Linked DNA regions of Homo sapiens: regions 2, 3, 4 and 5 are each reported to be linked to region 1. The links are microRNA targets in miRTarBase. Many come from high-throughput screens and were not tested one by one. Region 1 holds a microRNA gene; each other region holds the end of a gene's coding sequence.
What was found. Region 1 holds the annotated microRNA hsa-miR-4284 (GGGCUCACAUCACCCCAU, at 4,099-4,116, opposite strand). A microRNA usually pairs through its seed, bases 2 to 8, with sites in the 3' UTR of a target mRNA and lowers its output. Matches are read on the target gene's strand: a 7mer-m8 pairs with bases 2 to 8, a 7mer-A1 pairs with bases 2 to 7 and ends in A, and an 8mer does both.

Region 1 (6,134 bases):
GTTGGTTTTTTTTTTGTTTTTTTAGACGGAGTCTCGCACTGTCTCCAGGCTGGAGTGCAATGGTGCCATCTCAGCTCACTGCAGCCTCCACCTCCTGGGTTCAAGTGATTCTCCTTCCTCAGCCTCCTGAGTAGCTGAGACTACAGGTGTGCATCACCATGCCCGGCTAATTTTTGTATTTTTAGTAGCAACGGGGTTTCACCATGTTGGGCAGGATGGCCTCGATCTCTTGACCTCGTGATCTGCCCGCCTCGGCCTCCCAAAGTGCTGGGATTACAGGTGTAAGCCACCACACCCAGCCAATTTTTTTTTTTTTTTTAGACGGAGTCTCATTCTGTCATCCAGGCTGGAGTGCAGTGGCATAATCTTGGCTCACTGCAACCTCCACCTCCCAGGTTCAAGTGATTCTCCTGCCTCATCCTACCGAGTAGCTGGGATTACAGGCATGCACCATCACACCCGGCTAATTTTTGTATTTTTAGTAGAGATGGGGTTTTGCCATGTTGACCAGGCTGTTCTTGAACTGCTAACCTCAGGTGATCCACCCACCTTGGCCTCCCGAAGTGCTGGGATTAAGGCATGAGCCACTGCACCCGGCTACCCCTATAAATTCTGATTCAGTCTCTTTGGGGTGGATCCCTGGAAGCCGTTTTTGTTTTTTTTTTTTAACCCCCCCAAAGGATTCTGGTGCTCGCCCAGCTTTGAGAACTGCTGAATGCAGAACAAAAAAACACCAGGATGTTAGCTGGGCTTGGGGGCTCACACCTGCAGTACCAACTACTTGGGAGGCTGAGGCGGGAAGACTGCTTGAGCTCAGGAGTTTGAGACCAGCCTGAGCAACATAGTGAGACCACCATCTCTACACAAATTTAAAATTAGCCAGGTGTGGTGGCAGGCACCTGTAGTCCCAGCTACTCTGGAGGCTGAGGCTGGAGGATTGCTTGAGCCTGGGAGATCAAGGCTGCAGTGAGCTATGATCTTGCCACTGCACTCCAGTCTGGACAACAAAGCGAGATTCTGTTTCAAAAAAAAAAGAGCTGGGCGCGGTGGCTTACGCCTGTAATCCTAGCACTTTGGGAGACCGAGGCGGGTGGATCACCTGAGGTCAGGAATTCAAGACCAGCCTGGCCAACATGGTGAAACCCCGTCTCTACTAAAAATACAAAAACTAGCCGGGTGTGGTGCGGGTGCCTGTAATCCCAGCTACTCGGGAGGCTGAGGCAGGAGAATCGCTTGAACCTGGGAGGCGGAGGTTGTGGTGAGCCGAGATTGCGCCACTGCGCTCCAGCCTGGGCAACAGAGCGAGACTCTGCCTCAAAAAAAAAAAAAAAAGTGCCAGGACAAATTGGATGTTGGTTGGATGGGAGAAGAGGAGGAAGATGGCAGATGTCCTAGGTTTCTGGCTTGGGGTTCTGCGCTAGGCAGTTCAGAGGATGGGGCTCTGGCAAAACAGGTGGAGCCTGGTTTTGGCCAGGAGGCAGGCAAGGTGCCCGTATGATATCTGGGCACATCCGTCCGTAAGACACTTGGGCCTTTGAGTTTGTGCCCCACAGTTCCAGCTGCCACCTGCACAGCGAAGGGTTCCAAGTCCCCAACTCCAATCCAGCCCCCTCTCCAGAGCTGTGAATGCCACTCAGAAAGCATTGGTAGATCCCCAAGGGAGCTGGGCCCTAATTATTCCACAGAAATCTGTGTGTCCACTTTTGTTTTTTTGAGACAGGATCTTGCTCTGTCACCTAAGCTGGAGTGCAATGGCACGATCATAGCTCACTGCAGCCTCGACCTCCAGGGCTCAAGCAATCCTCCCACCTCAGCCTCCTGAGTAGCTGCAATTACAGATGCATGGCACCACGCCCAGCTAATTTTTGTAGCTTTTGATAGAGATGGGGTCTTGCTATGTTGCCCTGGCTGGTCTCAAACTCCTGGACTCAAGTAATCCTCCCACCTTGGCCTCCCAAAGTGCTGAGATTACCGGCGTGAGCCATCATGCTTGGCCACTTTATGTATACAGTGCCCGCCCTGGCCAGCCCAAGACACCAGGAAGACAGCATGCCAGGGTAGCCACATCACCTAGTTACATTTTGGTCAAGAGTGTGTCTGGGCTGGGAAACAGAGGAGGTGAGGGTGGCAGTGGGGCTCTGCCATCCCGCGTCCTTATCAGTTTATTCCGTGTCCAATGAGAACTGATTCCTTATCTGAGTGAATCTGGAGGACATCTCTAGAATGCTGCCACCAGGCTCTAGCTTGGATGTGGATGAGGGTGCAGGGGCGACAGAGCCAGGAGCCATCAGAATCCCACAAACTGAAATAAGCATCAGAACAAATGAAGAAATGAAACAGGAAGAAGGTCCTTCACTCGAACCCCAAATCCACTCCACAGACAGTGGTTGGGAAGGGCTTGGGGCTTTTCTTGACAGGAAATGCTACATGATCACTTATCTGATTCCTGGCTGTATTACTAGAGGTAGATCATATAGAAAGAGGGAGGGGATGGGCCAGATCTTTGGCATTGCCCAGACCACAGTCAGCAGCAGATTCAGTTTGTGTGCTGTATGACAGGAGACAGAGGCACAGTGGAACAACTCTTGGGCAGGGGCTGTAATTTGGGGTCCCTGGGAAGGATCTGAAAGGGAAGGAATACTTAAAAAGAAAAATCTAGGGAGGATGTGGATGCCGCCTTCAAATCTATAGCAGGGGTACCCCAGGGAGAGGGCACCCACAGGTTCTTTATGGCCTGGAACCAAACCACAGGGAAGAGAAGGACTCTAACAGTTGGGGCTGCCCGAGATGGGCAGAGCTGTCTGGGGAAGCTAGTGAGCTCACTGTCACAGGAGGTTTGCAAGCTGAGGCTGGCAGCTGAAGCCAGGGGGACTTTTCAGGTCCCTTAGGGCCTGAGAGTTTTCAGCCATGGCTCCAATAGGAATGTGAATGGCGTGTGGAAGAACAAGGTGCGAGATACTGATTTGGGGGGGCAGGGAGGCTTCTGGAAGGAGGTGGCATCGAGGAAGAAGGGAATGTCACCTTCATGGAATCAGCATCCCGGGCAAAGGGATGTGCCTGGGGGAAGTTGGGGGCAGAGGGTGGATTGTAGGGCCAGGAACCAGTTGTAGGTGTGGGGGAGTGGGGTCTGATCCCAGGGGAGGGCAGCAGGATAAAGAGCAGAGCTGGGGGTGAAAATTCCCAAGAACGAAGAAGTAGAAGGACGTGGGGAGGAAAGGCCCACTTCGCCCATCCCCTCTAGGTTTTGCTTGGAGCTGTGGCTGGTTTGACCATGCCTCAGAGGTCAGGCCCTCAGCCCCCCGACTGGCTTTGGGGCCAATCTCAATGCCACCTCCAGGGTAGACTTGACCTGCGTGCCCCCATCTACCCTGGCCCTGATCTCCCTTTCCCCAGCCCTACCCTCATAGACGGAGGGTCCAGAGGAGGATGCGGGCATCTCTCCTCCCAGCCCTTCTGTTAGAGAAGCTTCCTGGTCCAGCCTTCAGCCTTCTGGGAAGGTAGCAGGTCAGAGCTGGCCGGATGCCTGGAGAAGATCTGCCCTCATTACACAGATGGGCAAGCTGAGGTCAAGAGAGGCACCAGACAGGTGCCAGGGGTCTCTGAGGGCAGGACAGGGGTTCGGTGGGGCTGGCAGTGACGCTCGTCTCTGGCCACGGAAAAGGAGCTGGATAATTCTCCATCCACCCTTTGTCATCTACCCTGATCCTCTGAGCACCAGGGCAGAGAGGGCAGGACACTGAATGGCAGGAGCTCCTGGGGCCACTTCCCAACCTGGCAGCCTGCCCAGGAGGAGGAACTGGGCTCCTCCTGGCAGTGCTCTGCCTCAGTTTCCCTAGGGAGGGCTCCTCTGACTCAACTCCTAGGCCTGTCACGGTCTAAAAGCGTGAAAACGGCTCCTGGATTTTCTGTGTCTGTAGGGAGCTTGGTGGGGGAGGGGGTACCACCTGGTGACAGCCCCAGGCACTCGGTGGGGAGTGGGAACGAGGATTTATTTTAGCTGCTGGGGAGGTGGTACGATATCTTAAAGAGAGGAGGCCCCTCTGAGCCGCCTCTATCAAAGCTCCTAACTACCCCCTCTCCCCATGAGTCCCCACTTTGATGGGGTGATGTGAGCCCCTCACAGAACATGCTCAGGCCGGGCATGGTGGCGGCTCACACCTATACTCCCAGCACTTTGGGAAGCCAAGGTGGGAAGATCACTTGAGCCCAAGAGTTTGAGACCAGACTGGGCAACATAGTTTGACCCTGTCGCTACAAAAAAAAAAAAAAAATCAAAAAGTAGCTGGGTGTGGTGGCATGCATCTGATGCATCTGTAGTCCCAGCTGCTTGGGAGGCTGAAGTGAAAGGATGGCTTGAGCCCGGGAGGTTGAGGCTACAGGGAGTTATGATTGTGCCACTGCACTCCAGCCTGGGTGACAGAGCGAGACCCTGTCTCAATCAATCAATCAGTCCATCCATCAATCAAACAAACATACCTGCCCTGCTTCCCCACTTTTTCTCAGCCCTCCCTCCATGCAGCCAGGTGTCACTGTCCCCATTTCACAGAAGAGTAAATAGAGCCAGAGGGGTTAAGGCCCAGCCTGATGAGTCCCATCAGTTCTCTCAGCCCCTCAACCTCCACCTGCCTCCGTCCTGACGCGAGAGCACCGAGGTGGGGTCAGTGCTGAGCTAGTCAGTGGCCACTCCCGTGAGGCACTCAGAAATGAGGTGGGAACAAGATCAGATGTGGTGGTTCACGCCTGTAATCCCAGTACTTTGGGAGGCCGAGGCGGGTGGATCACCTGAGGTCAGGAGTTCGAGACCGGCCTGGCCAACATAGTGAAACCTGTCTCTACTAAAAATACAAAAATTAGCTGGGCATGGTGGCATGCACCTGTAATCCCAGCTACTCGGGAGGCTGAGGCAGGAGAATTGCTTGAACCCAGGAGGTGGAGGTTGCAGTGAGCCAAGATCACACCACTGCACTCCAGCCTAGGTGACAGTGCGAGACTCTCTCAAAAAATAAAAAAATAAAAATAAAAGAGGTGGGAACAAGCCCTGAGCCCCAGGCTGAGAGACCTCAGTCCCTGCCCCAGGGTGGCCACCCCGGATATCCTTGCCTTGGCTGCAGAGAGAGACCTGGCCTTGCCAGCAGCGTGGGCTGACCCTGGCCAACTGGCGGTATGAGGCAGACAGTAATAATTGTGCGCAGCATGCTGGGAAGTCAGAAGTATGATTACCCCTGCCCCACGATGGGGGTGGCTTTTGTACAGCTGGTCCTGGGACAGTGGAGTGGGGCTTGTAACTGTGGCTGAGGCCTAAGGCAGGACCCAAGCCAAGTGGCAACATGACTGTCCCCTTGTGCCTGCTGGGCCCAGGTCTGGGGACTGGAAGGAGGCAGACCGAGGTCCAATGGCAAGACCGACAGGGAGGCCAAGTGCAGTGGCTCACACCTACAATCCCAGTGCTTTGGAAGGCTGAGGCAGGAGGATCGCTTGAGGCCAGGAGTTCAAGACCAGCCTGGGTAACACAGTGAGACCCCCGTCTCTACAAAAATAAAAATTAAATTTAAAAACTGTTTTAAAAAAAGACTCACAGGAGATTCCTAAGAGATCTGATCCGTGCCACCTCGGGACTGGGGTTTAGTGGTGCCCAGGGCTGGGACACAGTAGGCAGGTCTCCCCTTATAGGGCCCACTCTGGAAAGGGAGCTTGGGACCTCTGGGCTCCACCTGAATTAAAACCACTGGAGCCAGGCATGGTTGTGGAAACCTATAATTCCAGCTACTCGGGATGCTGAGTTGGGAGGATCGCTTGAGCCCAGGTGTTTAAGGCTGCAGTGAGCTGTGATTGCACCCCTGCACTCCAGCCTGGGTGACACAGCAAGACCTCAACTCTACAGATGTGTGTATGTGTTTGTGTGTGTGTGTGTAAACCACAGGGCCAGGAGAGTAGAGAATGCACTTTCCAGGCAGCTGTCCTAGGGGCCTAGGGGACCCAGAGGGCCCAGACAGAGCGGCCGGCCCCAGGCTCGCTTGCCTCCCCAGCCACAGGGAGGGGGCAGGCAGATAGGTGAGGGAGGAAGTCCCTGGCCCAGAGGCTGAGACTTGGCCTTGACACCAGTGTATCAGGCAAGGTTCCTCTCTCTGTGCCGG
Region 2 (6,134 bases), not on the chromosome of region 1:
ATTTCCTAGTTCTAATAGTTTCTGTGCAGAATCTTTAAGATTTTCTAAATATAAGATCATGTCATCTGTGAACAGAGAGAATTTACTTCTGCTTTTCCAATTGTGTGTCTTTTCTTTTTTTTGTCATATGCTATATATAACAAAATTTTTTTGTTTTGTTTTGTCTTAATTGCTCTGGCTGGAAATTTCAGTACTATGTTGAATAGTAGTGGTAAGGATGGGCATCTTTGCTTTGTTCCTGATCATAGAGGAAAAACAGTAGTTCCTAGTTGCATATGGTATTAACTGTGGGCTTTTCGTGTATGGCTTTTATCGTGTTGAGATAGTTTCCCTCTATTCATAGTTTATTGATTGTTTTTATCATGAAAGGATGTTAAATTTTGTCAAATGCTTTTTCTGCATCAATTGAGATGATCATGTAGTTTTTGTTCCTTATTTTGTTAATGTGGCACATTACATTGACTGATTTTCATATGTTGAGCCATCCTTGTATTCCAGGTATAATTGCCATTTGGTCATGGTATATGATGCTTTTAATGAGCTATTGAATTTGGTTTACTAGTATTCCTTCTTTTTAGGGTTTTTGCATCTATGCTTATCAGGGATATCAGCCTGTAGTTTTCTTTTCTTGTCTTTGTCTTGGTGTCAGGGTAATACTTGCCTCATAGAATGAGTTTGGGGCATTCCTTCCTCTTATTCTTTGGGAGAGTTTGAGGATTGGTGTTAATTCTTCTTTAAATGTTTAGTAGAATTCTCCACTGAAGCCATCTGGGCCTAGGCTTTTTATTGTTGTCGTTATTACTGAAAGGTTTTTGATTACTGTTTCAATGTCCTCTCAGTTATAGGTCTGTTCAAATTTCTTATTTCTTTATGATTCAGTCTTCGTAGGTTGTATGTTTCTATGAATTTATCAGTTTCTTCTAGGTTATACAATTTGTTAGCGTACAATTGTTCATAGTAGTCTCTCAAAATCATTTTTATTTCTGTGACATCCATTTTAATGTCTCATTGCCCATTTATAATTTTAGCTATTTGAGTCTTCTCTATTTTTCTTAGTCTAGCTATGAATTTGTTAAATTTTTGATCTTTTTGAAAAACCAACTCTTAGTTTTTTTGATCTTTTCTATGGTTTATGTTTACTTTATTTCCTTTATCTCTGTTCTAATCTTTATTATTCCCTTCCTTCTGCTGACTTTGGACTTGGTTTGTTCTTCTTTTTCTAGTTCCTTGAAGGGCAGAGTTAGGCTGTTGATTTGCAAACATTTTTCTTTTTTCATGTAAGCATTTATTGCTATGAACTTCCCTGTTATTGCCACTTTTACTGCATCCCATAAGTTTTAGTGTGTTGTATTTTTGTTTTCACTTGTCTCCAGGTATTTCCTAAATCCCTCGTGTGTTCTTCTTTGACCCATAGGCTGTTTAATAGTGCAATGTTTAATTTCTAAATATTTATGGATTTTCCTATTTTCTTTCGGCTATCGATTTCTTTTTTTTTTTCTTTTTTGTTTTTTGAGACAGAGTCTCGCTCTGTCACCCAGGCTGGAATGAAATGGCATGATCTTGGCTCACTGCAACCTCCGCCTCCCGGGTTCAAGCGATTCTCCTGCCTCAGCCTCCCGAGTAGCTGGGACTACAGACATGTGCCCCCATGCCCAGCTATTTTGTATGATTAGTAGAGACAGGGTTTCACCATGTTGGCCAAGCTGGTCTCAAACTCCTGACCTCATGATCCGCCCGCCTTGGCTCCCAAAGTGCTGGAATTATAGGCACTAGCCACCACACCCAGCATCTGATATTGATTTCTAGTTTTGTTTTATTCCATTGTGCATAAATGGGTTTTTGAAAGAGGTTTGATAATAGCAATAGAGAACATTTCTATGATTTCAAATGGCTTGCTCAAGTCTTGTATATTAGCAATATAGTCATTATCTGCAATAACCTGAAGCTATCACCTTAAGCCAAAACATTATGAAATATTTAGATACCAGAATTTCTTTAAAAAATAAACAAGAAGTAAATGGCTTAAAAGTCAGAGACTTGACACTTACCAACATTTGGTGATTTTTTTTGTTTTTTACTCACCACGAAAAATGATAACGCATTATGGAATTTGCTTTTAAAAATGCAACCAATTACAATGACAAAACATTAAAAAATACTTTCTAGAGAAGAATGCAAGCACATGTTGTGCTATCTGTATAGTACCACTAGCTCCATGTGGCTATTGAACACTTGAAATGTGAATAGTGCAACTGAGGAACTAATTTTTTACTTAATTTAATTTAAATTTAAATAGCCCTATGCAACTAATGGCTACTGTGTTGTACAGTGCAATTCTAGAACAAGAGAAATAATAGACCCTCTTTTATAGGGGCTAATGGATCACATTTAAATTAAAACATTCAATTTGTTGAGGTGAGAGATGAGGGAGAAGGCACATTGTAGAGTGAGTTGTAGAGTGATATAGACAAACTTCAGTGCATGTGAAGAGAAGGTAAGAAAACTAGAAACTATCATGTCAGAACCAGGTTGAAGGAATTTGAGATGGTCTTCATGGGAAAACGATAACTCATTTAAGCAATTAACATTGCAATGGTTGGAAGAATAATTAAATTTACTTTCAAAGTTTCCTAAAGGAGGAATTAGAACCAATAAGTAGCTTGATACAAGGAAGAAATTTCTAACGTGAGTTCCCTATTTAGAGAAGTCTGGTGCTAAAGTGTATGACCCAGACTTATGACCTAGGCTTTTCTTTTCTTTTCTTTTCTTTTCTTTTTTTTTTTGAGATGGAGTCTCGCTCTGTCACCCAGGCTGGAGTGTGGTGGTGCAATCTTGGCTCACTGCAACCTCCACCTCCTGACGACCCAAACTTTGTACTGATGTTACAGCATTATAACTTCACTTCCTCTAACTAAGAAACACAGTCCTAAGAGGGGAAGTATCCTTAATAACAATATTCCTACTCTTGAGACCTAGAGTATATTAATAGAAAGGGTGTATATCTTTCTAATGAGAGGAAGATTTAGAGACAAAATTTGTCATTTGAGGCCCTCTGGAGGGGATCCCAAATCATATTTTAGGATATCCAAGAATCAAGGTTTTGGGGTCTGTACGTTAACATAATACTAAGTTGTTTTCTCTCAATGAGCCTGTGGGTTTTGAAGTGTGATCCATGATTCTTACTGGAATCTAGAGAACAACTGGTTACTAAGTTCCAAATAATTTTCCTAAGCAAGAAGACTGCTATTATGATCCCACTAAGTTTTCCTGTATACATCACATTTTCTCTAAACTTGAATCATTTAATCTATGCATTTCTGGGCTGCACATGTCTTCAAATTATGGGTGATGATGATTTGCTATTCAATCATCATGCTCAGCACTGGAGACATGCCTTTAAATTTGGTTTTCTCTTCCTAGAAGCACTATTTACAGTAGCCAAAAGGGGAAACAACCCAAATGTCGATCAACAAATGAATGGATAAACAAAATGTAGTACATACTTACAACGGAATATTATTCAGTCTTAAAAATGAAGGAAAATTCTGACAAATGCTACAATATGGATGAACCTTAAAGACATATGCTAAGTGAAATACGCCAGACAGAAAAGGACAAATGCTGCATGTTCCCACTTATATGAGCTACCTAAAATAGTCAAATTCAGAAGGACAGAAAATACAATGGCGGTTGCCATGGGCCAAGGACAGGAGCGAATGGGGAGTTATTGTTTAATAGGTACCAAGTTTCTTTTTGGAATGTTAAAAATGTGCCAGAGATGGATCATGATGAGGGTTTCACAACATTGTAAATTACTTAATATCACTGAATTGTACGCTTAAAAATGGTTTATAGCCAGGTGTGGCGCTGCACACTGGTGATCCCAGCTACGTGGGAGGCTGAGTCAGGAGAATCGCTTGAACCCGGGAGGCAGAGGTTGCAATGAGCTGAGATCATGCCACTGCACTCCAGTCTTGGTGACAGAGTGAGACTGTCTCGAAAAATAAAATAAAATAATGCCGGGCATGGTGGTTCATGCCTGTAATCCCAGCACTTTGGGAGGCCGAGGTGGGCAGATCACCTAAGGTCAGGAGTTCGAGACCAGCCTGGCCAACCAGATAGTGAAACCCCATCTCTACTAAAAAATACAAAAATCAGCTTGGCATGGTGGTGGGCACCTGTAATCCCAGCTACTTGGGAGGCTGAGGCAGGAGAATCACTTGAACCTTGGAGGTGGAGGTTGCAGTAACCCAAGATCACATCACTGCACTCCAGTCTGGGCAACAGGAGCAAAACTCTATCTCAAAAATAAAATAAAATAATAAAATGGCTTAAATGGTAAATGTTATGTTACATATATTTAACTTTAATAGAACTTTTTCAAATTTAGTTTCCTCAAAACTTGGATTGCATTAAACTATCTTCGCTGTATATGTGAGATCATCTATAGAAAGTGGCTAGTGCTATTTTTGTATTTTTCCTCTAACAAATGTAGTTTAAGAACATGCCAATCTGATTTTGAATCACATAATCCGGTGGATGGGCATTGTTGGTGCAATATGCAATCGTCATGTCCCAGGCATCAATAATACCCACATTAAGATCCACAAAAATATCTCTTATGATAAGATTCTGAATATAGCCATGAAAGTCACTGAACATCTCTGCATTTTGTTCTATCTCTCTGGTGTTTTCAGTTTTAAGTATCACCTTGGTCTCCGGGCTTCGCAAGAATAGACGTTCAATGGCCTTTTGAATATTGATGGCCCTACGGATGAAAATGTTGATGGGAAAGGGTCTGAAGTGTTGGCCGAGGGTAATGACAATGGCTGTGTTTTTGTCTCCTGCTACCTGGTCAATTTCCCGTGGGATATAGTTTTCATCTTTCACTGAGAATAATTTTTTGGTAACAAATGGATGACCATGTTTTTTCCACTGAATCAAAATATGTCTTTCAACATCCAGAAGAACATGTGTTTTAAAGATCCCAGCTCCATGATGATCAAAATATTTTAGGGCTGATGAAAGACAAATCAATAAATATTTTAACAAAAGGAAAATGATATAACTTTAAACTGCACACAACATGTATAAAATTCTAACCAAGATCACTTCTAACTAAGCACTATTGCCTATGTAAGGTGGATAATTTTACCAGGTGCATTACAATCTTAACAAAATATTGAACTTGTTATGAGAATACATGAAGAGGAAGAAAAATATTAACATTTGTGAATGAAAAGATAAAATTTAACTTTTTATTAAAAGCCCAAAGCCAAAAGTTAGGCAAATTTAAAATAAAATAAAATAAAATAAAATAAAATAAATATTAGAAAAGAAAAGCAAATAATTCTAATTATTATTTCAAAACCCTCAAAAGTCAAATAGAATTTCAAAATATAAATTAAATACATACTTTTCACAGCTTTTTGTAAGTAGTAAATCCACTGATGCAGTGTTGAATCTCCCATGAGATAAATAAGTTTTCTTTCCAAGCAGTCATTTATATTTTTTGTTTCATTGAACTTGATCTGTTTACAAAATGCTGTAATCCACATTTTTTTCAAAGTATAACCACTGGGGAAAGGAGTCTTCATTCCAATCTGGCAGTTCTTTTTTATGTTCTCGCTCTCTGGCAATACAAATTTCCAGATTAAGTAATTTTTATTACCACAAATTATTTTGGAAAAATGTTTCTCATTTTTGCCTTCCTTTTCCTCTTTTTCCTCCCCCTTTCTCTTCAGCTCTATTTTGCCTTCCTCTCTTCCACAAATATTTATTTAATAAGATCATGTTAAAAGGGTGAATTAAATAGCTTTTCTTGAATAGTTTTTCTTGGAGTGGGGATCTGTTGACTCTTGTGCATTTGCAATGTGTCCCTGGGCTCCACCTTGTCCCCAGAGCCACGCTGCTGTGGAACAGCCAGCCAGAGTCAGGAGGAAATGTGTGGCCGTGAAATAGCAGGGCACAGTGGCCCTGCCAAATATTACACCAATGACATTGGCCTCGCTGAATTGTAAATCTCATCTTCCTCAAACTACTAATCCAGGAAAAGAAGCTTGAATGTGTTTATGAAATGAGTGTGTCACATTGTTTATTTTGTGTGTCCCAGAATCATCTTCTCTGGCTAATAC
Region 3 (6,134 bases), not on the chromosome of region 1:
GACACTCTAGTTATAAAAATGCCAACAGCAAAGCTGCACGACTTAGTTTTTAGAAAAAGTACAAAGACATCAATTGTCCAACAATAGGGGATTAAGTAAATTAAACTCTGCTCATTTAATAAAATGATATCCAGCCATTAAAAACAATGAAGTAAATCTCGATGTTCAGCATATATAATAATCCCCATAATGGAATGCTAAGTTTAAAAACAAGAGACTTTGAAAACATTATGTAAACTCAAAGGTGCCAGAAACAAAAGGCCACATAGTGCATGCTTCCATTTCTATGAGATGTCCAGAATAAGCAGATCCAGAGACAGAAAAAAGATTAGTAGTCGCCAGGGTATGAAGGGGAAAATTGAGAGATAAAGGGAATTTTTGCGGGCAGTGGGGGGTGATAGAAATATTCTGAAAATAGTGGTGGGTGATGATTGTACAACATTGTGAATATGCTAAAAAACATTGAATTGTACACTTTAAAATGGTTAAAATGGTAAATTTTGTTATATGTTATATATATTTTATTGAATTTCAATTCAATAAAAACAAACTTAAAAGGTAAGTGCATGTATGTATTAATGTGTACACAAGTCACTAGGAAGAATTGGGTACCTGTGTGTATAGTCTGATAAAATGTATGCTAATCTATTTAAAGGCAGTTATGTGGGGAATGAAATTTGGGGATAGAGGGGCAATTTCACTTGTTCAGTATTAATATTCTTCTGGGAAAAGGTACTATATATATTTTTGTCTTTATTAAAATCTATCCTAAAACCCTTCTCTTGAACTCTAGAAACATAGATGTTCTGGTGGTTGCTCTGCCTCCCATTCCCCTTTCCATGTTTTTTAAAAAGTTTATTAACATATAATTTACATACCACAAAATCCACCTATTTTAGTATACACTTAAAATTTAGTTAGTAAACATACAGTTGTGCAGCCATCACCACTCAAAAAGTTCCCTCCTGCCTCATTTGCCGTCAGTCTCCACTACCACCTCCTGGTAACTATTTATCTGCTTTGTCTTTATAGATTGGCCTTTTCTAGATATTCATATAAATGGAATCATATGATATGTGGCCTTTTGTATTTGGCTTTTTCTTTTACTTGGCATATTTCTGAGGGTCATCCATTTTGAAATAGATTATCAATAATCTGCTTTTTATTGCTGTGTGAAGGTATTATCAAGATGACAGTGTACCTAGAAAAGGAAATAAAGATTATACATTTAGAAAACTAAAAATTAAAACACAGAAAACAAAAAGGCTTTTAGTGCCATTCATTGCCTAAAGACTACCAAGTTCTCCAATATTATCAGACCATGAAACTGATAACTGAAAGCAAACGTGTCATTAAATTTTACAGACACTCCTTTGCGTTATATTCTAACTAGGAAAATAGAAAATAACTATTTTTTCTGTTTGTAGGAAAATAAAAGTCATCCAACTAGATTAAAAGTATAATTTACAAGCATGTTAAATGTTTCTGCTGAGTACTTATTTGTTTTCTCATTTTTTTCTTTATTCATGTGTGTGCCACAAGTGCTGATAAGCTATTGAAAACACCTTAATGCATAATTAATCACTCTGCAAGCAATCAGCAGATTTAGTGCTAGTTGCAGAAATAAACCAAATTCATACATGCAAGGTAAGCCTAATTAGTTAAGCTCACAAAAAAATGTAATATCCGATTTTTGGAACCTAATGTGCTCAAGAAAGTATTTGTGCTTTTAAATTAGAACAGCTCTCTATTTAATTAGTCCTCATTTGAGTATGTAATCATTTTAATTTATTTACACAAACACAGGACATTGTGCTCCATCAGCAGATAATGTTCTTCATTAACCAGAGTAGGAACTTTGTGCTCAAGGGCAGCAGAAATATTTCCACCTGTGATGCAAAATCAGAACTGCATACTATCAAACTGCATTCTTTGGTTTTGATGGTCACCATCCTAAGATACATATTTGTTAATAATAACATAAGTTTAAGTACTCTACCAATCCATAGAAATTGACAATTTAAATATTTAATGTTTCATTTTACCTATTGCCCAGTTACAAAATGGATATTTAATTATTAATGAACAAATTAACTTACTGAAATTCAAGTATTAGTAATGTACTACAATTCAAACTTCAATAATTTGGATGGTGGAGAAGCAGAGTTAATTTTTTAAAAAGTTAATTCTTTCTTCATTAGGGGTGCAAAGTAATGATAGCCTAGATTGTAGAGAGTGGGGAGGCTAGGTTTTATTCAGACTGTATAAAAACAAACACTGTATGCTTGGCAGGGTAATGACATCATTCTTATGTATTCATTAAAGCACATAAAGCAATTCTTCCTTAAGGCGTTTCCAACAACCTTGAAACCTTGTTACTGGCACACTGCTTCCGATAAATCCTAAATACACTCTAAAAAGATAAAGAGACACTCTCATTAACTCATCTGCAGTATGTTTTTGCTACTAAATAACAGTTGAAATTTGACATGTCACAAAATGAGTCAGTGGATAGCATGTGAGGGCAGCTTTAACATGAGGAATTGTTTGGGTAGGAGGCTTGCTCTAGGTAGTATTTTGAAGGAAGGCCCAGGGCTAGTCTTTGGTAAGTATGCTTCATTGTACAATCTGTACCATGAGAGCTGCTATATTGTTTTGAAAACTTTCCATACTACTTTATGAAAGGCTAAATACTTGCTATATACAACTTTTTTTTTGTTTTCTTCCCACAAAGAAAGAGAAACAACTTGTCTGAGTAACTACATCAGATCTGCTTTATATAACAGCATGGCAAATGTAGCCTTGATTTCCCATAACTCTTCATGATATAGAGCATCTCTACAGAATAATATTTTAACTTGTACAATTTCCCTTTACCCAAAGTTTAAAATTCTTCCATTTATGTGAAAGAAAACTAGTGTATAGTTCACATCAGAAAGGCTCCCTTTTTCTGTAGGTAGTAAGTACTGCAAGCATAATTGCATAATTTTAACTTTAGAGACAACTGACTTAGCTTTGGAGCATATTTGAGTTTAGCAATGCCTATTAAGGTTAAAAATACAAATTTGCAAAATACCAAATGTACAATGCTAAATTCTATCCCAAATCATGTCATTAGATACATTTTAAAAAACTCTCTTTGATTAGGTGGCCACTATCCAAGGATAGTATCTTAAGATTTCTAGAACTTTGCATAATCTGCCTAACTATAACTGGAAAAAGAATGTCTATTTCCATAAGCCTAGTTATACAGCTCTTGAAAATACCCATTGGTAAACACAGTATTATAGCAATGCTATAAAATATACATTTACTCCATATGTAAAGTCAACTACATGATCTTGGCATGTATACATGTATGAGTAACACACTAGTGTTAAGTCAATTTGCCACTCCACTCACAAGTACAGTATTTGGAGATAAGGCGTGTTTCAGTCTGTTACCCCCACGATGAGTTTCAGTTACTCAATGACAATCACTGGATGAGCTTTTAGCTATGGTGTCTCTAGTGTTTAAAGATACCTGCATGCTTTTAGTATAAAATGGGCCTAAAGCAAGGCAGGTAATCTACCTGGTACTTAACTGAAGAAACCAATCTATTCCAATGATAGACAAAAAAAAAGCGCCACATAGTACTTTTTGAGACACAGTACAACAGTCTTTAATGTATATATAAATATGCCTACATAACAGAGTTTGATAAGAGAAGTTTTGGCTATATACAACTCTGCATGTAATCAAACTCTAGAACATCAAATGCAACTCCACTGCATAGCTGTTTTGACAGAGCAACAGTTAAGCATAAAATAGCTTTGCACCTTATTATTTTGGAGCAAAATAAAAAATAACCACCACAAAAAAAATCTCTACAATAATTTAAACTAAAAATGTTGTTGAGGATAGGGTAAACAACAAAAAAGAAAATAATTTGATCCATATGTGATATTTGGCTGAAGATTAACAGTGTTAAGTCTAACCAACAGCGAGATAATTTTAATTTCCAAAGCATCTTCTACCGTTTATTAGCAATATTTGGATATTAAGGGAAGACATTTGCCTTAACAAAAACTATACTGAAAAAGACAAATGAATTGAAAAAGACAAAAATACTATCCAAGAATTACAATAAAAAATTTGGTTAAGTTGGAAAGCCTATCAAATTACCTTCCAAATTGCTTTTTTAAAGCAATTTGGTAAGTTTGAAAACCTAGCCCAAAACAAATTAATGACAAGTGGGTTTCTCCAGACGATTAATGAAGAAAAACATACTTATGTGAATCAATAAATATGTTATTTCTCTCAACCTCTTTTTATGCTTTGAAAACTTGTTCTAAAAAAGAACCATTGATACATCATTTTGACATTTCTATTTAGTCTGAAAATCTCTTTAAAAAAAAAAAAAAGGCAGTATTTTCCTCCCTGTACCATATCTTTCTCGTAACTATAACTGAGCTTTGTCCAGAATCAGAGACAGTTTTTCTAGAAAAAGCCAATGATCAGTATACAAGATACAGTATTTTCCTACAGATTCTCTCTGGCAAGAGAACATGACAATATAAATCAAATAAATTTAATACAATAAAATAATGTAACTCAAACTGCTCATTTAATCCCCTTTTTGTCTGATTCTATATTAGCTGATTTCTATTCTTAAAGCTTAAATTAGGGGTCAAAATCAGAGCCTAGTTAAAAAAGAGACAAAGAGAACAGTAGTTTAGTAAAAGTAAATTCAATAACACAGTTAAAATTAATTGGGAAAGTTTTAATAAGCATTCAAATGTACTTTACATTGATAATTGCAATATTGAATTTTGTAAAACTTTAAATATTTTCCTTAAAAAAGGTTAGTGATTTTTTTATTATTTTTGGGAAATGTGGCGATCCAACGATTATAGCATTAATGCAACCATTCCAGGTCCCTAAGGTTGAGTTAACATTAATATGTAAGTAAGTGTTCGCATTTCATGTCTACAATAAGGTAGATTGTGAACTTCCCGTATCTCTGAATTTTAGCAAAAATTCCATGAGATAATTTACAGTAATGTCAAATTTTTGGAGTGCAAACTCATACTCTACATTTGGATCACTTTTTTGCTTTGAGTTACCTGACTTGAGAATACAAGGCAATTTTTCTTTCCTAAATCCTTGGAAAAATATTTTTGCAGTAAGTCTTGTGTCTCCTTTTTTTTTTTTTTTTGAGACAGAGTCTCACCCTGTCACCCAGGCTGGATGGAGTGCAGTGGTGTGATCTCGGCTCACTGCAAGCTCCGCCTCCTGGGTTCACACTTCTCCTGCCTCAGCCTCCTGAGTAGCTGGGACTACAGGCGCCCGCCACCACGCCCAGCTAATTTTTTTTGTAGTTTTAGTAGAGTCGGGGTTTCACCGTGTTAACCAGGATGGTCTCGATCTCCTGCCCTTGTGATCCGCCCGCCTCGGCCTCCCAAAGTGCTGGGATTACAGGCGTGAGCTACCACGCCCGGCCGTCTTGTGTCTTCTTTACTGTGACTGGGTCGTTTTTAAGAAAGGTTATCAGCTTTGTGTTTGGTTTCCCACAGTTGATAAAAATCTATCAAAAACATTATAATTTGCAAGGAAAAAGGTTTTTCAATGGCTGCAGGAACCAGAAAGAAATAGCATTTCTTATCTGTATAAACACAAACATTTAAAGCTAGTCACACCGCAGGTAAATCCAATATAGTATGCAAAAGTTCTATAAAAATGAACAAGAGATACACGTTTACTTTCATTGCTCCAACAGTCAAATGTAAATCTGCATGAGAGTTGCGCTGCAGCAGTTTGCTGGTCCAATTTAAGAGTTCAAGGTCCTTTTTGTACATCTGGCCCACTGATGTCCACATCCCAGATAAATTTTCAAAAGACGGAAATCAGGGCAAAGACTCCATATAACAAAGCGCAAGGATATGCTACTAAAAGTTGCTGTCCTTCCATGGCTAATGCAGAAATAAATATTTTGGAAGCAGAAAAACTACACCATCCAATAATCCCAGCAGTGAGAATGATTCCTACCATTCCTCTGTAAACAACAAGGAAAAAGGGGGGAGAAGAAAAAAAAGCAGATGAGATTAGTTATGTAAGAATACTACAATAACCTATTCTAAAGCATTTTAAATTTA
Region 4 (6,134 bases), not on the chromosome of region 1:
TACATTCAGGTAAATTAGAACAAATATGATTCCCTCCTACATAACCCAAGGATACCCTGGATCCCTTCGAATGAGGAAAAATTTTATTTGAGGTTTTTTTTTTTTCCTCTAGCTTGATGTGATATATCTCTGAAGTCAATCTTTATCTTGTCCTTGAGAGGGTGAACAGCTCCAATCAGATTTTGGAGAGGAGGTTCTCCTTAGATTCTTTTGATCACACTACATCAGCAACCTCTTCAAAAAGCTTAGAATTCAGTTGATTCAAGGGATTTATAAATTTATTTTAATAGGAATAAAGGACCTAGTAGTTTATTATCCTTTTCTGTCTCCTATTTATGCTAAACAGTAAAGTAATAAATACTTATATAAGAAACAGACTTCAAAAGACATGGATGACTTGGAAATAGGATTCACTTTATAAAAGTAGAGAAGGGCTCAAGACTCTCAATCAGTGAAGGTGTGTTAATACTGAAATATAAATAGCTAAAGTTCAGATTGTCTTTTCAACATAGTGAAAAGGATACACTAGTTTCTGTAAACCTCACAGAAAATATTCACAGTTCCCTAAATGAAAAATTGTAATCTTTAGCAGAAAGAAGATATTTCATTATGAAGAGCTACACTCCTAATGTTGTGAAATAAATATTTCCCTGGAAATTTGAGGTCCTTGTCTGTCACCTCATGTTTCAAAATACCTTAGGGATGTCAACATATACTACACATAAGCTGTTGTATAGTCTTGAACCTCTTTTTCACTTACATTTACATATAACAGTGCTTTATTGCCAAAAAAGGAAATATGAGCAGTTCAGTATTTCCCCCATATCATTCATATAGTGTGATAGAAGTTCATTAAAATAATTTTTTAAAAAGCCATGTGAAAGTAAATACCACAAGGTTACAAAAGGTACAAAAATGTGTGAAACATTTAAATTTCAGAGGGAAATCCACACTTCTGCAAGGTTGAAGTTTCTCATATCAAATTCTCATTCCCAGTGGAAAACAAGGTGGGGAGGGTTGGGAGGTTTTTGTCCTCAGTAGCCTGCTTTTTCCCACGTAGGACTCCACTTTATACTACTTCACACTGACTCGCAGTCATTTTTAAGGCATATGACTCCCGACCAGGGCACAGATCTCACACATGCTTCCAACATCAGTGTAATGCCACTGTGTCATAAAGGTCAAGATTAGGGGTTTCATGACATATGAAAAACTTTGGGAAAATAAATTTTTCAAGAGGTAATACTTTTGGCAATTTAATTTTAAAACAACTTCTTCACCAGCTATTACTATGCAAAAATAATCATTATGGTCCCAGCATTTAATTTATTTGCAGGAAAAAAACAAATTAAATATTGATTTTTTTATTTACTTTGAGATGTAATCCTAAAGCAATGTATTAATTTAAAAAATTACCACAGCAGAAAAGATGCCTCTATGTGGGTATGGTCCTTCCAAAAGTCAGCTTAAAAGTCAAGCATTTATTCTAAGCATTCTGCTACTACTGTTGTGCTCAAACTTTTGGTATAACTTAGAGACACTTATGAGCCACATAAAAACTAAGTCCTTTGTTTTGTTTTTTTGAGATGGGGTTTCCCTATGTTACCCAGGCTGGACTCAAACTCCTGGGTTGAAGTGATCCTCCTGCCTTGGCTTCCCAAGCAGCTGGGACTACAGGTGTGTACTGCCATGCCCAACATGTCTTATTTCTTTATAACTGCACTTCTTATGTGACCCCAAACTCAGCTTAAGCATCCTTTTCATTGATCAAACTTGGATCCTAAGGACTATTTCCAAATATTTAAATTTATTCTTAAAGGCCAAGATTGACTGCCATTGGGAATATTCAAAAGAATGGGGGTACTGGCCATTCAAGCAGCTCACACAAGGAGGGCCCCACATGTTTATAGCACAGGCTGTATCAACGGAATAAGTACATGGGCTCACAAGGTGACTGAAGGACCCATCATCCAAGAGGATGTGTCAGTTCTGATGTGTTTTTTTTAAATCATCATTTCACCATTATAGTAATATTACACAAAGGCATGAAGATGAAACTTCAGGTGTAACTTTTTTGGGGGTATTACTTTTTAAAGTAATGGTTTTATTCATAGGCCGCAAATCCAACTTTGGCTGCAGTTTTTTTCTTTTTTTTTTTTTGAGACGGAGTCTCGCTCTTGTCACCCAGGTTGGAGTGCAGTGGCACAATCTCGGCTCACTGCAACCTCCACCTCCTGTGTTTAAACGATTCTCCTGCTTCAGCCTCCTGAGTAGCTGGAATTACAGGCCCTGCCACCACCCCCCCGCTAATTTTTGTCTATTTTTTTTTTTTAGTAGAGACGGGGTTTCACCATGTTGGCCAGTCTGGTCTTGAACTCCCGACTGACCTCAGATGAACCACCCGCCTCAGACTCCCAAAGTGTCAGGATTACAGGCGTTAGCCACCGTACCTGGCCTGCTCCCAGTTTTTACAAGATGTTAATTCCCAATAATCTGAGAGCAATGTGTTAATATGAATATTAATTCTTCTAAATGAATATTCATCCTTATTTCCTACTTGTATAGGTGGATGAATAAAGATCCAATAGTATAATAGAAAGACTATTAGTAAGAATGCCGGAAGGTCAGTCTCATGCAGCCTGGTGAAATAAAACAAACAAACAAACATGAATTCTAGAGCTTGTGTTGTCAGTAACCAGCTGTGGGGTAAGTGTAAGATTTAATCTCTCTATTCCTTAAGTGTTCCCATCCACAAAGTAAGAAGGCTGGATGAGGTGTGTCAATCCTAGCACATTAACCTAAGTCATCCCCCAGGTTGCCTAGACCTGTCAGGAGCATGGCCTTATGAAGATACAAACATGAAATCCTGGGTTGGACCCCTCTATAGTTTCTGATCACCAAACACAGTAGGAGCCCAGTGTAAAACAGGTTCTGGATATCTCCCACGATAAACTTCCCATGTCCCTGGAAGAGCTGTACCATTGTAGACACACTTTAGCTTCAGGCAAACAAATTTCTGGTGTACCCAGAACCATTTTCTTAAACCATTTCCATGGGTTTTTATTTTTATCTATTTATTTTTTGAGATGGAGTCTTGCTCTGTTGCCCAGGCTGGAGGGCAGTGGCGCGATCTCAGCTTACTGCAAGCTCCGCCTCGCGGGTTCACGCCATTCTCCTGCCTCAGCCTCCTGTACAGGCACCCGCCACCACGCCCGGCTAATTTTTTGTATTTTTAGTAGAGACGGGGTTTCACGGTGTTAGCCAGGAGGGTCTCAATCTCCTGACCTTGTGATCCGCCTGCCTCGGCCTCCCAAAGTGCTGGGATCATAGGCGTGAGCCACCGCACCCGGCTCCATGGGTTTTTAAATACAGCTGTCAACTCTCCTTTTCCTCAAGTATGAAGTCACATGTTAAAAGAGGCTGTCCTTGGCTGTGTTTGATAAAGGGAGTTAGGCACTTGTTTCATCTGTTTCTTCCTCCAGGAAATAAGGTTAACAACACAGGTGGTGAAAGCCCAGCAACCTCCGATTGCACAAGGATACTGATGCCATGGCTTTGCTTTTCAGCCACAACTGGGAATAAAACTGGGAGCTCTGCTGAGGCAATTTTGCTGCTAAAAATGTACAAATGCCTAATTAGAGTTACAGGACCTACCAGAAGATGAGGACTTACAGTAACTAGCCAATACTACATTTACTTAACTTCTTTATAAACTATCAAACTGGAAAGTTACTCACAACTTTTGGTCTTTCAAAATTGTTGCCACCTCTTGCTTTGCTTCCATTTTGTCAGCCTGTGCTGCCAGTGGCTTTTAGCTTCTCTGGGTCAGTTGTTTTACATTATTACTCCCCTTCCTACAAAGGAACGTAAAGCTTGCCCTGAAACACCCAGAAAGGGTTCATTCTCTCTCTCCTTCTGTTATTTGCATTATCATGGTCAACAAATGCTTTCACAAAAACATTCCAAGCCACACACAGCCCTCCTCCTCCTTAGACATTCCTTCCATTTCCCGAGGGGGGATGGGCCCTGGAGAGGTGGGTGATTAGACCCTAACAAAGACAGGGCTCATGGTTATCCTTAAGAGGTAGACCACTGCACAGTTTAGATGGCCAAATTAAAAGTACAGAATCAAATTGCTGTTTGCAGTTCTTATCACTATGAATCTAACACTGAAATTCACATCTTCCCAAAGTACCTCAAATAACAAGAATAAAAATGCCAAGAATGAAGTTAGTCTAGGCTAATCTTTCCGAAGTGTAAAGAAGTTATAATCCCACAATTGAACACATTTCTCAGAGCTTTGTATGTTCTCTTTCCAGTTCAGCCAAGCTCCTGGGGTCTAGTGTTTAAAATACTCCAATTATATCATCTTGTGCGGACTGAAATTTTTTTCCAAAAGACTGGAAAAGTGACTAGCGATTCAAATATATAAAACAGTTTGTAACTTAAAAGATAGAAGTGAAGACTACCAGTACAGTAGGTAAAGCTGTGTGCATCCACAATACAAAGGATCAGACTCCAAGATGGATGGCTACTACATAACAATGCATTCTGGGTTTCTTTGTGATACCTGGAGAAAAAAAAAAGCCCGACTGGGTTGCACTATATTTACATGTTTACTGGCTTCTTCCTGGCTAGCACCACTCTTCCCCCCAACCCCCAACATTTTTAAGCTACTTATTTTAAGTCACAGGAATATTCAATCTAAGAAAAGCATCTTATTAGAGTAATATAATTTCTTAAAGAAGATAGCATATTTACACACATCTAACACATGAAAATACTCTATTTTATACTAAATTCCAGGTTCAAATGAACTACAATACAACATTTTGCCTTGTCTGTAGAGTGAGGATTGTTCCAAATGGGGCATATGTTTGGCTGCCCCTGCAGTGACTCACTACTGTCAGACAAGTCCAAATCGGTCCCCTAGTTGGGGAAGGAGCAAGGTTTGGACTGAGAGTTTCTAGCCAGTTGGGTTACACATCCACTCCTTTGATGAGTGATCCTTCTAGGACTATGGTGAAGTCCTGAATGGTCTGCAGAATTCGGATAAGGGAGTTGACAGTCATGCGGTCTCGCAGGAGAGCGCTCTCTTCATACATTCGAGTGATGGCAGGACACTCAGCTAACAATGGAATCCACTGTGGGAGCAGGCGATCCCTACAGACCCAAACAGAAACAATTCCTGAGCATTGCTGGCCTCGCTGCAGAACAAGGCACACAGTGGAGTCTGTATGAATGGGAAGGTGTGGGACTTGATGGTACAAAATGTATCCAAGCTAAGAGGTCAGGAGAGAGGAAATCAAAGCCAAGAAGTTGAATATTTTCTGGTAAAAAGACAGTGATGAGACAGTGTAAAGAAAGCTAAAGGGAAAACCCATTATTTTAAACCCAATTTAATGTACTTTAAGAGTTTAAAGTACATTAGAAAGTCTATGCACATTAAAGACATTCTCTATTCTGATTTTACCACCTTTAGAAAGAGGCAGAATGTCATTTTCTATGTCTTTTTTTTTAATAGGAGTGTTACTCTGTGGCAAGGCATGCCACAGTATACTGACCTTTTGGAAGAAAGACTACACTAAACTGTAGGGACTTGCTTTTTTTTTTTTTTTTTTTTTTAACTTATATAACATAACAGGGTGAGGAACAAAATCAAAGCAGAAAAACATTAAGTAGATTTTATAAACCAGATGAGAGTTTGCAATGGTCTAATAAATCAGAAGAGTATAGAGATAAAAGGAGATAAAGATCATGCTCAAAAGAAACTTTAAAAGCACAGCTAAAACTGGGCTCCTTTTATGAAGAAGAAATACAGAACTTAGTTCTGTAAACCAGCTGTTTCAGGAAGATAAAACCTCACATCTTCAATGTTTCCTGATCAAACCTGACATTAGTAACCCATTGCTAAGTTCCTAAGACATCCTTATTGAGCATCCCCAATCAGGCCATCTTCAGTCTCAAGTTGGGGCTCTTAAGGTTCAGGAAAAAACAAATACTACATGGGTAACTTAAAAAAAGAAATCTAAAGGTCTGTATGTTTCATTTCTTACAATTCTGAGATCTGTTTTAAAAGTAATGGATTGTATCGCTCCTATGTGCCACTTTCAAAAAATAAAGGGGTAGGAAAT
Region 5 (6,134 bases), not on the chromosome of region 1:
TAGCTGGGACTACAGGCACCCGCCACTACCCCGGCTAATTTTTTTGTATTTTTAGTAGAGACAGGGTTTCACCATGTTGGGCAGGCTGGTCTCAAACTCCTGACCTCAGATGATCCACCTGCCTCGACCTCCCAAAGTGCTGAGATTACAGGCATGAGCCACCGCGCCTGGCCTAAATTTTTTTAATTAAAAAATTGTTTGTACAGACAGGGTCTCCCCACATTTCCCAGGCAAGTCTTGAACTCCTGGGCTCACGCGATCCTCTTACCTCAGCCTCCCAGTGTTGGGATTACAGGCTTCAGCCACTGTGCCCAGCCATAAGTGAATTTCAAAATTCTCTTTACCTAGTTTTAAACAAATGTATCTCAGCCAGGCACGGTGGCTCACACCTATAATCTCAGCACTTTGGGAGGCTGAGGCTGGCCAATCACTTGAGGTGAGGAGTTTGAAACCATCCTGGCCAACATGGTGAAACCCCGCCTCTACTAAAAATACAAAACTTAGCTGGTGTGGTGGCACACGCCTGTAATCCCAGCTACTCAGGAGGCTGAGGTAGGAGAATCGCTTGAACCCGGGAGGTGGAGGTTGTAGTGAGCCAGGATCATGCCACTGCACTCCAGCCTGGGTGATGGAGTGAGACTCCGTCTCAGAAAAAAAAAAAAAAAAAAGGAAATGTATCTAATTTGGTTTAACATGTTTACCTCTGTTGGCAGCAATGGTTTTGAAGCTTAACGTTGGAGTGCTGCTGTAACTTTCAGACTCTTTAGCACTTGGAAGATGAACTAAAAATAATGGGTACACACTAAGAAATCTGCATACAGAGCAGGGGACCCCCGGCTTCCTCTGTGGATGGAACAAGGGACCTCCTCCCTAGCATGGCACATTGCCCTTATTTATATTCTGCTTTCCTTGTCGTACATAGCCTGGCAACCCATGCCACTGTCGCTGTTAACAGAGGAAGTTGGGGTTTATTTGTTCACTGCGGTTTTCTTTTGTTGTTTGTTTGTTTGTTTGTTTTAGACAGGGTCTCACTCTGCCACCCAGGCTAGAGTGCAGTGGTGTGATCTCGGCTCACTGCAGCTTCAGCCTCCTGGGCTCAGGGGATCCTCCTACTTCAGCCTCCTGAGTAGCTGGGACTATAGGGGAGTGCCACCACACCTGGCTGATTTTTGTATTTTTTGTAGAAATGTGGTTTCACCATGTTTCCCAGGCTGGTCTTGAACTCCTGGGCTCAAGCGATTCCAAAGTGCTGGGATTACAGGCATGAGCCACCATGCTCAGGATGGTCATTGTGTTTTCCGTGGGATAAACGCATTGGCATTAGGGGAAGGCTTAGATCGACAACACACCCGCACAAACACATCAGCTGTCATCTCTTTACCCTCAGCATTTCTCTGGAATGTCTAAGTTAAGCTTTAAGACGTTGGTCAGATCTTAGAGAACTGGCAGAAAGGAATTTCAATGAAACATTGGGTCAGATTGCAAATGAAAAAGCTTGAAATGTGGGGATGGCCACGTTTTAATAGGTTTTTGGTTTTTGTTTTTACATGAAAGGATTCTCATCGCTTTGGAAGGCACCTGAAAGAAGCAATGACTGACATCATCACTTTGTTTGGTCTCAGTTCTAATTCCAAAAAGTAATTCCACTGGAGCTGCTGGGAAGGAAAACGAGCTCTTCTGATGCAAACCAAATGAAAAATAGGCATTAATCCTGACCTTAGCTCGGGATGAAACACTGCTCTTAAAAAAACTCAGTTTTCCTTCCAGAAAATGTGGGTGTTTTTTTTTCCTAGAACAGTATCTCTCCCCTGTGAAGCATAACCCCACTACTTCCAGACTTGCCCTCCCTTGGGGGACATCTGATAAAGTCTCCCCTGATGTCTCCGCATCGGCTTGGATTTATTAAGGGATGCAAATCTTGTTGAGTTAATGAAGGAATTAGTAGGGTTGTGGCTTCACACACAGTGGAATGGAAATGGTGTGCTTTCTCAGTGGCAACCGAAGGCCTAGTGCTTAAGGGCATTTAGCATCATCCAAGCAGGGTAAACTTTTGTTTTGTTAAAAGAAAAATGTGTTATTCAAGTTGGTGTCCCCAGTTGTAGCTAACACATCTGGAATGCACTAACCAAAATGCTGTGCTTTGGAGACCTGCTTTTGTCACCGTGGGTAACCGTTCCCGTCTGGTCCAGTAGCCTGTGTTTGCCTCTCCACATTTGAAGCAAGCAGGATGCAAGGTCTTCAGTTTTACTGACCTTGTATGTCTTCAAGTCTTCACAACCCAGTGCCTTAAAAATGAAAGGCCCTAAATGTAAGGGAGATGGAGAGAAAGATTTATTTTGTAGAGTCTTTGGGTGGAATTGTGGGTATACTGTTCCCTTCACAATTGACTGAGTATGGATAACCGTACATAAGCATTTGCTACACCCCACCAGCCCCCTCCCCCTCAGAAACACCAGTTCCTTCCCAAGGGCAGCTGTGCCAGACTCCCCTCCCGGGACTGCCTTCTTGTCATCATAAGCAACAAAAGAAATAACAGGCACATGTCATAAAAGGGGAGCAAGGGCCGTGATGGTCAGATAATTCACTCAAGAATAAAACATGACACGTGCCTCAGGAGGATCTCTTTCCCAAAGTGACAGCAAGGAGGGCAGGGCATCGGCCACCAAGCGGGGACTAGCAAGTGAGGAAGGGGAGGGCAGCCCACCGTGGTGAGGAGAGAGTGGCTCCACGACCCCAAGGGATGGCCTTCTCCTCCCACCCGGTGAGGGGAAAGACTCACCAGAGGGTGATGGAGACAGTATGCCGGCTCACCTTGGTGACCAGCCAAGATGTCTCAAGTGACAGTGCTAGGTGTTCACCCAGCCTGTCCTTCAGATAGGAGTGCCTTCACGAAAGCGTCTCATGGACCACAAAGCAATTATGCACTGAGTCATCTTCAGTATTTAATGCAAAAATGAAGCATCATGGAATGAAATTCCCACTGTCTGTCATGACAAGCTTAGCTGTCCATTGTTTTAAATTGTGTATTTATTTTTTTGACCACTTGGTTCTAGTTGGGCCTGACTCCTTCAGAGTGCTGCACCCCGATAGTACAACAGCGATGGCTGAACTGTTGGAGTCGATGGAAGGTGCTTGCCGGAGAACACGTGCCTTTTTTTTTTTTTTTTTTTTTGAGATGGAGTTTCACTCTTGTTGCCCAGGCTGGAGTGCAGTGGTGCAATCTCGGCTCACTGCAGCATCTGCCTTGCAGGTTCAAGCGATTCTCCTGTCTCAGCCTCCCAAGTAGCTGGGATTACACGCCCAACACCATGCCCTGCTAATTTTTGTATTTTTAGTAGAGACGGGGTTTCATCATATTGGTCAGGCTGGTCTCGAACTCCTGACCTCAGGTGATCCACCTGCCTCAGCCTCCCAAAGTGCTGGGATTACAGGCATGAGCCACCATGCGCGGCCCACATGCATGTTTTATGTATGTATACTTCATGATGTAAAAATCCCACCTTTATGGGCCAAAGATTTTTTTTCTCCTGAAAGCAAGAAAAAATGAAAACAAAAGACAAAAAAAAAAAAAAAAGCGTCCAGGCGCGGTGGCTCATGCGTGTAATCCCAGCACTTTGGGAGGCCAAGGCGGGCGGATCACGAGGTCAGGAGATGGAGACCATCCTGGCTAACACGGTGAAACCCCGTCTCTACTAAAAATTCAAAAAATGAGCCGGGCGTGGTGGCGGGCGCCTGTAGTCCCAGCTACTCAGGAGGCTGAGGCAGGAGAATGGCGTGAACCCGGGAGGCGGAGCTTGCAGTGAGCCGAGATCGCTCCACTGCACTCCAGCCTGGGCGACAGAGCGAGACTCCGTCTAAAAAAAAAAGCAAAAACAAACCAACAACAAAAGCCCCTGACTGTCCGTCAAGCAGGCAGCGGGGATGTAGCTCTCTCTGCCCTGGGCAAGAATAGCACTTCCCGTTAAAAGCCAGCAGCCGGCGTCAGTCCCTATCAGAGCCAGCTAGATCATGCACTGTTGACCACTGAGCAATCTGTGTTACACTAGAGTTCACAGGGCATTTTGAGTGTAGACGTGAGTGCTTAAACATATTTGGGTTTCTCTCTCAGGTTTTAAATGTTTCAAATGTAATTGTTGCTCATCAGTGCAGTTATCAATGCAATTTTATATTCCTTGAGGGGAGAAAGAGGGGTCTTATTGTACATGTCCAAGGGGGGTGATAAGAGTATTATCTGTTTAATTTAATTGGAACAAACCATTGTCTTAACGCAGCCATGGTTTGAATTTGTTATCTTGGGCTGACCGGTGCATGTAAATACAGTATGCTCTTTGGATGTAAATCTTAGAAATGCAGTGTGAATGTAGGTTATCATTAATAAAACATTAACCCCAGTCTACTACAAGATTTGTTTCTGTCTCTTTTGTTATATTAAGGGGATTATAAGTCAAGGACCAAGTTCAGATACTTGAGACAAAGTGGAAAGTCTCAGCATATGGAAACAAGGCCTTGGAGGAGACCATGGACATCACCAAGTTCATGTGCTGGGCTGGAAAGAAAAGCCTGTTGATTTTCACTTGCTGTGCATTTATTCATCCATTCCATTGCCTCAATGCTGAGAACAGTGCCTGACACATAAAAGATGCTCAATAAATATGTTAAAAGTAATGCATGAATTCCATTTTTCTGTTTTTCTTGAGCACCTGTATTAGGCCATTCTCACATTGCTGTAAAGAAATAGCTGAGACTGGGTAATTTATAAGAGGTTTAATTGGCTCTCAGTTCTGCAGGCTATACAGGAAGCATGGAGGCATCTGCTTCTGGGGAGGCCTCAAACAGCTTTTTACTCATGGTGGAAGGCAAAGGGGGAGCAGGCATTCTACATGGTGAAAGGAGACAGAGAGAGAAAGAGAGGAGGTGCTCTCTTACACATTTGCAAACAACCAGATCTGAGAGAGAGAGAGGAGGTGCTCTCTTACACACTTGCGAACAACCAGATCTCACAGGAACTCACGCACTCTATGGTGAGGACAGTAGCAAGAGGGATGGTGCTGTTCATGAGAAATGCACGCCCATGATCCAGTCACTTCCCATCAGGCCCCACCTCCAACATTAGGGATTACCACTGAACCTGAGATTTGGGTGGGGACACACATCCAAACCATATCAGCGCCTGTTCTAGGCACTGGGGAGACAGCAGTGACCCCACCAGGTTCTGGCTGTCTCATTAGTCCATTTTTACATTGCTGTAAAGAACTTCTTGAGACTGGGTAAGTATAAAGGAAAGACAGTCAATTGACTCACAGTTCAGCATGGCTGGGGAGGCCTCAGGAAACTTATAATCATGGCAGAAGGTGAAGGGGAAGCAAGAAACCTGTTACATGGCAGCAGAGGAGAGAGAGTGAGGGGGAATTGCCGAACACTTTTAAGCCATCAGATCTTGTGAGAACTCACTTCTTATTGCAAGAACAGCGTAGGGGAACCGCCTCCTTGATCCAATCACCTCCCACCAGGCCCCTCCCTTGACACAGAGGGATTACAATTCAAGATGAGATTTGGGTGGGGACACAGAGCCAAACCATATCACAGAGGAAAAAGAGAACAAGCCAACCAGTTGAAGGATTTTAAGTGTTCTGAGGCAACTAAGAGGATCATTGGGAGGGGGTGGTAGCTGGCAGGGAGGTTGACCCACTTAGAGTGGGTTGAGCTGAGACCTGAGAGACTCGACGGAGCCAGCCCGGCCAGTGCAGCAGGGCAGCAAGCATCTAGGAGCAGCAGGTGCAGAGCCTCCAGGCTTGATTGCAACCCGTGGGTGACCCCCACAGGTGGCTGTGTATGCCTGGCATGATGCTACTCAGTAGACGTCTGATTCTGATTAGTAAACGAATGAACGGTGCAACCTTGTGGGTTACTCTCTCGCTTGGGCCACTCAAGCTATGCATAATTCTTGGGCTCTTCGATTTATTATTTTTATTATTTTTTCTGCTTCTGTGAGTGTTTTTTGTTGTTGTTGTTTTTGTTTGTTTGATTTTTGAGATGGAGTTTCAATCTTTTTGCCCAGGCTAAAGTACAATGGTGCAATCTCAGCTCACTGCAACCTCCGCCTCCCAGGTTCAAGCAATTCTCCTGCCTCAGCC

Region 2: the mRNA of NXPE2 is a reported target of hsa-miR-4284. The part of its 3' UTR that is shown has no 7-base or 8-base seed match.
Region 3: miRTarBase lists YIPF5 as a target of hsa-miR-4284. Seed matches in the 3' UTR shown: 7mer-m8 at 5,253-5,259.
Region 4: the mRNA of DENND5B is a reported target of hsa-miR-4284. Seed matches in the 3' UTR shown: 7mer-m8 at 2,213-2,219 and 7mer-m8 at 1,941-1,947.
Region 5: the mRNA of CPT1A is a reported target of hsa-miR-4284. Seed matches in the 3' UTR shown: 7mer-A1 at 3,435-3,441 and 7mer-m8 at 3,800-3,806.

The regions. Positions count from the first base shown.
Region 1 is chr7:73,709,309-73,715,442 of GRCh38, reverse strand. MIR4284 (microRNA 4284) reads right to left here and starts at 4,126; the gene lies at 4,046-4,126. All of the region lies in intron 1 of STX1A (syntaxin 1A), which reads left to right.
Region 2 is chr11:114,705,279-114,711,412 of GRCh38, reverse strand. It overlaps NXPE2 (neurexophilin and PC-esterase domain family member 2), which reads right to left. Exons shown (of 6, transcript NM_182495.6): 5 at 5,417-5,632; 6 at 4,344-5,018. The coding sequence ends at 4,483. Among named protein-coding and RNA genes, the nearest start is that of NXPE2, 30 kb to the right of the region's middle.
Region 3 is chr5:144,154,526-144,160,659 of GRCh38, forward strand. It overlaps YIPF5 (Yip1 domain family member 5), which reads right to left. Exons shown (of 6, transcript NM_030799.9): 6 at 3,637-6,034. The coding sequence ends at 5,872. Among named protein-coding and RNA genes, the nearest start is that of YIPF5, 13 kb to the right of the region's middle.
Region 4 is chr12:31,382,624-31,388,757 of GRCh38, forward strand. It overlaps DENND5B (DENN domain containing 5B), which reads right to left. Exons shown (of 21, transcript NM_144973.4): 21 at 1-5,163. The coding sequence ends at 4,980. Among named protein-coding and RNA genes, the nearest start is that of LINC02387, 16 kb to the left of the region's middle.
Region 5 is chr11:68,753,151-68,759,284 of GRCh38, reverse strand. CPT1A (carnitine palmitoyltransferase 1A) reads left to right here. Exons shown (of 19, transcript NM_001876.4): 19 at 1,555-4,402. The coding sequence ends at 1,641. Among named protein-coding and RNA genes, the nearest start is that of TESMIN, 4.7 kb to the right of the region's middle.